Homo sapiens: one gene and its partner. The protein of the gene in region 1 interacts with the protein of each later gene in a pairwise test. Each region holds a gene or a part of one and is shown on either strand. Other genes may lie near its edges. The genes, in order: PCDHGC3 and HGD.

Evidence for each region.
Region 2: the proteins of PCDHGC3 (region 1) and HGD interact in a two-hybrid assay, tested with the Homo sapiens proteins (one large-scale study listed by BioGRID and IntAct).

What each region holds. Positions count from the first base shown.
Region 1 is NC_000005.10:141,492,791-141,496,604, forward strand, and holds part of PCDHGC3 (protocadherin gamma-C3 isoform 1 precursor), read left to right. Parts: intron 1-2,016; coding exon 2,017-2,075; intron 2,076-3,814. Other genes in the region: PCDHGA1 (protocadherin gamma-A1 isoform 1 precursor), read left to right, coding at 2,017-2,075; PCDHGA2 (protocadherin gamma-A2 isoform 1 precursor), read left to right, coding at 2,017-2,075; PCDHGA3 (protocadherin gamma-A3 isoform 1 precursor), read left to right, coding at 2,017-2,075; PCDHGB1 (protocadherin gamma-B1 isoform 1 precursor), read left to right, coding at 2,017-2,075; PCDHGA4 (protocadherin gamma-A4 isoform 1 precursor), read left to right, coding at 2,017-2,075; PCDHGB2 (protocadherin gamma-B2 isoform 1 precursor), read left to right, coding at 2,017-2,075; PCDHGA5 (protocadherin gamma-A5 isoform 1 precursor), read left to right, coding at 2,017-2,075; PCDHGB3 (protocadherin gamma-B3 isoform 1 precursor), read left to right, coding at 2,017-2,075; PCDHGA6 (protocadherin gamma-A6 isoform 1 precursor), read left to right, coding at 2,017-2,075; PCDHGA7 (protocadherin gamma-A7 isoform 1 precursor), read left to right, coding at 2,017-2,075; and 11 more. UniProt on the Homo sapiens protein: Potential calcium-dependent cell-adhesion protein. May be involved in the establishment and maintenance of specific neuronal connections in the brain.
Region 2 is NC_000003.12:120,675,740-120,679,553, forward strand, and holds part of HGD (homogentisate 1,2-dioxygenase), read right to left. Parts: intron 2,256-3,814; exon of another isoform or gene 2,165-2,255; intron 125-2,164; coding exon 53-124; intron 1-52. UniProt on the Homo sapiens protein: Catalyzes the conversion of homogentisate to maleylacetoacetate.

The DNA of each region.
Region 1 (3,814 bases):
AGCAGGACTGGGACTCCAGTGGCACCAGCGGCCCCTTCCTCCCGCAGGAAGTGAAAGCCTCGAGCGCCCTGGCTCTCAACCCCCAGAGATACAGGCTTTTGGCGCCGTCGTGATCACAATGTGCCCAGCGATCTAGGGTCAGAGATTTGGAGGTGACCAAACTATCTGACACTCTAACAAGTCCTGTCTCCTCTGGCAGATGGAAAGCTATAGGCTCTGCCAGATGCCAGGGTGCCCTTATGTGTGAGGAAACTACAATAGTAAAAAACACAAGTTTCTCCAACTCCAGGAGCTTTTATTCAAAATATATCAATGCCTAACTCTGCTCCTAGGACTGTATTTTGAAACACCCCCAGGTGATTTTGATAGCTGATTGAGAGAAACTTACTATATAACTCCTTTGAGAACCTCATCTCATTTGCTCTTCCCACCATTGCTGTTGGCTAGGTACTAACATGCCTCTCTTATAACAGCTTCACAGAGGTCAAGTGACTTGCTCAAGTTCACAGAGCAAGTAAGAGAGATTCTAACCCCTGTCTAACTCCAGAATGTGTGCTTTTAATTTCTTGGCACTTGGAACTTTAAAAGCTTGAGGACAGGAGAGGGGAGTTGCCTCTGCTGGGATTTTGCTTCTGCTGGGATGGGGCAAGGGTGGGGTTCCTTCCCTTTTAGGACCTTACATGTGGGGAAAGTCTTCTGTGGCTCCTCATTTCTGAGCAGTCCCCGCAGCGCAAACTTGGCCAGTTATCCTTTTGGAGATTGAGTTCCCCCAGCTCCGTTTCCTCCTATCACAATCACTGCATTTCCATGTAGATTCTGCTGTGTCTAAGAATACAGTGGCTGAGGGCTGGCCATCCCTGTGCCCTTCTCCATGGCAGCCCCAGAATGGTGCTGGTGACTCCCGATACACCTGGAATGCTAGGTTTCTGGGTTCTGCTCATATCACTGCCACCTGTGAGCCTTGAGTGAGCCACTGGCAGTTCCGGAGCTTCCTTCTCCCTGGAGTAATCTGAGATACTCACACTCTCTGCTTCTGGGAGCAAGTATGAGTATTAATTACCAGCCCACCCCAGAACCAGTGAGGAGGTGGCTCTAGGAGTGCTCCATGAGAGTGTGTGATGGGATAACACACCCCCTGGAAAGACCAGAAGGGACTCAGGAATGAAGTGGCTGGCCAGAGCCCCACACCTTCAGCTAGGTGGGAGATGGCTACACATCAGCCCCTTGGGAGCCCTGGAGACTTAGTTGGCCCTGCTTGGAGGCTGTGGGAGCTGGATCCCTCCCCGCTGCATCCCTTCCATTTTTCTCCGTCTCAGACAGAGCAGCCTTGTTCTCTTCTCCTTAGTCACAGACCATTGTCTGGCACGGAGTTCTAGGGGTGAGAAGTGTCCCGGGACTTGGATGCCCCGCAAAGGCCCAATCTGGCATGACTCCTAAATTAATAATGTATTTAGCTGTGGGAAGAGATTCTTGCAAGCCAAGGGCCCAGAGAAGATGTCCCTGTGAATGTGTCACTGCACAACCTGGCACCAAAAGGGTTACCAAGAACAGCAGCCATCTTGCTGCAGAGGATGCTTTGTTCCCAGCTGAGGAGTTGAATAAATTCATTCTAGGGCTGGTAGAATTCTCATTGAAAAGCCTCCTTTGCCACTTTAGGGGGCTTTGTCTGCACCTCTTCCCCCAGTTCCACAGAAGATGCCTTCAGTCCTTGAATTTTGGCTCAGGAGTTCTGACTCTGGGGGCAGGGAGGAAGGGGCCATTTCTTTAGGAAAGGAGTCTCAGCTTGCTCACTGTGGTCAGATGAAATGTGATTTATCTCTTGGTTTCTGGTACCTCAGACCTCTGAGACCTGAGGTGTATTTTGTCTTTGGAGATGAGTCCACCCCTGCCCCCTCTTAGTCCGTTTTCTTCTCTGTGCCCACTCCCCTCCTTCTCTCCCGGCCCATCCCTAGGGGCTCGGGTGACATTCTAACTTCTCACGGGTACTCAGCCCCTTTCCCTCTGTTTTCTCCACAGCAAGCCCCGCCCAACACGGACTGGCGTTTCTCTCAGGCCCAGAGACCCGGCACCAGCGGGTAGGTGACTGATTCTCCAGCCCACCCTCTTCTCTGCGGCATTTTCTCAGGGATGACGTGGGAGGAGATGGGGGAGGGCCCAGCATTTGCTACAGATGGCTTCTCCCTCAGTTTGAGATCCCAGGGAGGTCTTGGTGTGCGGGGGGCTGGCACACAGACCCCGGAAGGAAGAGGCGACTGCCCTGACTGTTCAGGAAGCTCAATTCACATGCTTGCCCCTTCCCTCCTCGCCACGACCGGCACCTTTTCCTATCCCCTGAGGGCACTGTGGAACCAAAGGATGGTCTTAAGCTGGTCTCTGGGTGAAAGCGAGGCTTTCTATGCCCATGTACTGCCTAACCCCCTCCCCTGAGTTGAGCTGGGCTCCATTATGACCTGGGGCTCAGGCAGAAAAGCATTTGACCGGAGGAGGCGGTCCGCACTCAGCGCCTCCTCCAGAGCCTCCAGAGCCGAGGCTGACTGCAGCCTGGGGAGAGTGGAGGCAGCACAGCTGGAGGTGGAACTGAGGAAGGACTGGGCGGGGCATGGAGCAGGCCCCCTTCTCCGGCCCCTCCTCCCACTGTCCTCTGCCCCTACTTGTCCTGCTCTCTGTCTGTGGGGTCTCCGTGTCTCTGCCCCTTTTTCTTGAGTTTCCGTCTTTGCCACTTTCTCTTACCTCTCAGTCCTTCCCTCAGTCTCTATCTCGCTTTGCAATCTCTGCCTCTCCCTCTCTTCTCCATCTCTGTCTTAGCTTCCGTCTTGATTGCTGCACCTCAGCCTCAGTCCCTTTCATTTGTCTACTTGCATTGATCTGTGCCGCCCACTGTGCCTGCCATGGCATAAGTGCTCAATAAATGTGGAGTGAGTAACTACACGGGACCCTTAGTCTCTTTCTCCTTCTCTATCTCTGCCTCCCTGTCCTTGTCCTGGACCTCTTTTCTGTTTCTCCTTTCACCGTTTCCTAGCGCCTTGTGTTCTTCTATCCCCAGCCTCTATGTTTCTCTGTCTCTCACTATTTCTGCTTTCCTCTCTGTTCTTTGTCTCTCTTTGTCTCTGTCTCTGTATATCTTTCTTTGTCTCTGTCTCTGGTCTCTGTGCCTGTTGTCTTTTTCTGCCTCTTTCTCTGTTACTCTTTCTTTATCTCTCTTTTTCTTTTATCTTGTCTTTTTTCTCTGAGCCTCTGTCTCTGTCTCTCATTTTTTTGTGCTTGTGGGCAAGCCAGCACACACAACCCCCCACCCACCACCCACCAACACCCCGCTCTCTTCCTTCCCTGCCCCTCACACACTGAGCCTTTGATCGCAGCTCTCCACCAGACACCCTCCCATCCAAGCAGCCCCAGCTGCTCATTTCAATCTGGTATGAATTCCTGCTGAGACAGGAACCCCCTGCGGGCTGAAGGGGAGGGAAACTTCAGCAGAAAGACCTTCAGTTGGTCTGAGCAGAGTGGGATAGGCTCTGCGCCAGGCCTCCCAGTTAGAAGTCAGGAGCCTGGAGGAGTCTCAGAGCCCAGGGAGAGAAGCAGGAGCTTGGGCCACCTTACCCTACCTCCTCAATGGTTGAGTACTTGCTGTCCACATTTGCCAAGTTGCTACAGATGCTGAGCTTCCAAGAGTTATCTTTCCCCCATCCTGCAACCAACCAAACCCTTGTTGCCACAAGGACCCAGGAGCCCTTGGTGTATGGCAGAGATTCCAGCTTCTGGGCATGCACAGTCCTGTCACCCATTTTAGGAACGCAAAGCGCTTCTTAGAAGGCCC
Region 2 (3,814 bases), on another chromosome or scaffold:
GTCATCCAGGAATAGGATTCAGAGCTCTTCTAAGCACTTTATTTGCTCATACCTGTCCTTCTGGCAGGGAACCTGGGCAGCGAGGATCCTCTGAAGAACACTCATTCCCAAATCCAGAAATGTACTGTAGGTGACAAAGACACAAATGCCACCATTAGCAGGATTTAAAGAGCATTTCAGAAAATTGGCAGTTTACTAAGGTAAGAATTTCTATATGGACCTATGTTTGTGTATGATGTTCCACATATAATATCTTTACTGTGTCTTGACATATGAATCATTTAGGGAAGACAATATGGTTTCTGTGAATTTTAAAGACTTCTAATTAATCAGAAGAGTGCTGGATATTGCATAGACTTCTCCACCCTTAGCTGTACTTAGCTGATTTGTGGGTCTACACTGTAACCTCCCTGAACTTGAGACTCCATTTCCCTTTCAAACTCTGGGAAAAAAAAGAAAAAGCATCTATGAAGAGGTGTGTGGGTCCAACCCTGACAGCAAAACCCTCTCCAAACTAGCCTTGCTGTAGGCAGAAGCCTCTGCTATCTGCCTCATCTATGGAACACATCTATATTTGTGCGAATGCATGAAAATAAAGTTTAAAGATATGGGTGGCCTTCAGGAGACACGCCAGCCCAGCATCTTTTCACAATGACACAATGGAACCTACTCTGATTGCCATCTCTTCACTTTACACCCAGAGGAAAAAAAAAGTTAAAGGGTTTCTCAACCAGGTAAGTCATGGAGAGCCCCTGAAACTTACTCTTGCAACACTCAACACACTTGTGAGTTCTTGTGCACTGTCTGGCTTTTTTGCTAGCCTATAAGCTGCATGAAGGCTGAGACTATGGCAGTCTTGGCTCATAGAAGGTAATCAGTGGAAATTTGTCGATTGATTGAATTTTTCCCTTAAAGCCAATTCTAATGTAAGTGTATGTGTGCTGCTGTAAATAGGGTTAGAACCCTTTTTGCTCTAACTTAAATACCAATTGATTTTAGCCCAGGATAATGAAAATGCAGTCTTGCTCAGCAAGCGAAATGTAACCATCTGAACACAGCTCCTTAAGAGATATAAGAAGGGTGGAAGTGGGTGAAGGGTAGGCCCTCCAGAGTTCTCAGTTGTTGCGGGAAGTCTGGGACTCCAAACGGAGGGATCAGCTGAAGCCATGGCAGAAGTTCGTGGATTGTGAAGATTTCATGGACATTTATTAGTTCCCCAAATTAATACTTTTGTAATTTCTTATGCCTGTCTTTACTGCAATCTCTAAACATAAATTGTAAAGATTTCATGGACACTTATCACTTCCCCAGTCAATATCCTTGTGATTTATGCCTGTCTTTACTTTAATCTCTTAATCCTGTCAGCTGAGGAGGATGTATATTGCCTCAGGACCCTGTAATAATTGCATTAACTGCACAAATTGTACAGCATGTGTGTTTGAGCAACATGAAATGTGGACACCTTGAAAAAAGAACAGGATAACAGCAATTGTTCAGGGAATAAGAGAGATAACCTTAAACTCTGACTGCTGGTGAGCCAGGCAGAACAGAGCCATATTTCTCTTCTTTCAAAAGCAAATGGGAGAAATATCGCTGAATTCTTTTTCTCAGCATGGAACATCCCTGAGAAAGAGAATACGAGCCAGGAGGTATAGGCTTATAAACAGCCCCCCTCCAGGTGCGCCTGTCTCTTATGGTCGAGACTGCAGGGGTGAAATAGACCCCAGTCTCCCACAGCGCTCCCAGGCTTATTAGGAAGAGGAAATTCCCGCCTAATAAATTTTGGTCAGACCAGTTGATCCTAAAAACCCTGTCTCCTGATAAGATGTTATCAATGACAATGGTGCCCGAAACTTCATTAGCAATTTTAATTTCGCCTCGGTCCTGTGGTCCTGTGATCTCACCCTGCCTCCACTTGCCTTGTGATATTCTATTACCTTGTAAAGTACTTGATGTCTGTGACCCACACCTATTTGCACACTGCCTCCCCATTTGAAAATCCCTAATACAAACTTGCTGGTTTTTGTGGCTTGTGGGGCATCACGGAACCTACCGAAATGTGATGCCTCCCCCGGATGCCCGGCTTTAAAATTTCTCTCTTTTGTACTCTGTCCCTTTATTTCTAAAGTTGGCCGACGCTTAGGGAAAATAGAAAAGAACCTACGTGAATATTGGGGCAGGTTCCCTGATACTCAGTGGCGTGGAGATGTAACAAGCCTGGATGTGTGAGTGATGATCAGGCCAACAACAGTCTGTATTTGGAAGAAATATCAGATGTGAATGTTATGACCTAGGAAGCAATGGAAGTGAAAAATTATTCTTTTTGCCTTCAGACTCAATATTTTGTATATTTGAAAATTTGTCAACACAAAAAATACTAAGTTGTATACTGATTTGTTAAAAGCAGCAGCATGCAGTTAGGATGATATCTTTGGGGAAATGGCAGAGACCATCCAACATTCTGATTCTCCACTGCATCCAATTTTCTACTCTCAAAATGAACCCCATGCTCACCATCAACGGGATTGAATTTGAGCTGCTGAGAATTGGTAATAACCCCAAATTATCTTCAATTCTGTGAAATGGAATTTTAGACCAGCCTGTGACTGAAGCCACTGGGCATTACAGTGCCTTCGCTTTGTTCAACTGCCGCATTGTTTCTCTCTGCAAGAGAGGAAGGAAGGCTGGAGTACAGCTGAGCTTTCTGGCAGGCACTGGTGGAGTTACTCATTAACCTTCCCCATTCTTTGTAACTGGTGGCCTTAGAAGAGGGTTCAGGGTTATGTGTTTGGAACACGAGTTAGTATAAATGGTTCTGAAGCACTTGATTCAGACTGTGCTTTAAAAAATAGGAAAGAAAGTAGAAAGAACAGCTGATGGTTTGGAAGGGAGCCACCAAGCACCAAGAGGTGTGAGTTCTGAATCCGTTTCTCAATCTTAGCTGCAGGGCATTGGCTAAAGAGGAAGGTGAAAACTGCTGAGTCACTATCAAATCAATTGGTTTTTCTAATCCCCTGAGAGAAAAAGTACAGAGTTTATTGCAGCTTTAAAATGCCATGCCCCTCACGGCCAAAGGCATCTGAATTAAGGAAGCAGTATTCACAGCTGCTTTCTCCAGACATTGAGCTCAAGGACAGAATCTGAACTCTGCTTTTATCAGCTGCGAAAATCCAAGCATTCATTTCCAGCTGGTTCAGTGCCTATGTAAAAGTATACTGTGTACAAAAATAAGATTAAAAAGCTAACATTAAGCAAGTGTGTTTGTATGTTTTCTACAGTTCGGATTTCTGAATAATTTGATCCGACAGAAAAATATGATTTCATTTCTTTTCGAGAGAATTATATGCATACTTTCTAAATGCAAGAATAAATTCCTGAGCTCCATGTGACTTCAGTACCATCAGCTCTTTGGCAGCTTATGAGTATACAGCTTTTTAATTCTCACCTGGTCCCCAGGATATGGTTTACTTGTCAGAGTAGTTTTATGAGGTGCTTTCTCCTGACTCTGATTCTAGGTAACACCTGATGAGATGAACAGATGGTGCACCTCACTTCCTCTTACTGGGCATGAAGGAAAGAGAGAGAAGTCAGGGTAGAGATGAAACTACTGCTACATTTTTTTTTTCTGTGGAAAAAGAGTCTAATATTTCTAATTAACCTTGATGGGAACATAGAACATAGATTGTAAAGGGAACTTGCACATTATCGCAGTAGGCTGAATAATGGCTAATGGCTCACTCTGAAAGATATGTATGGCTTAACCCCTGAAACCTGTGAGTATTATCTTTTCTAGCCAAACAGACTTTTGCATATA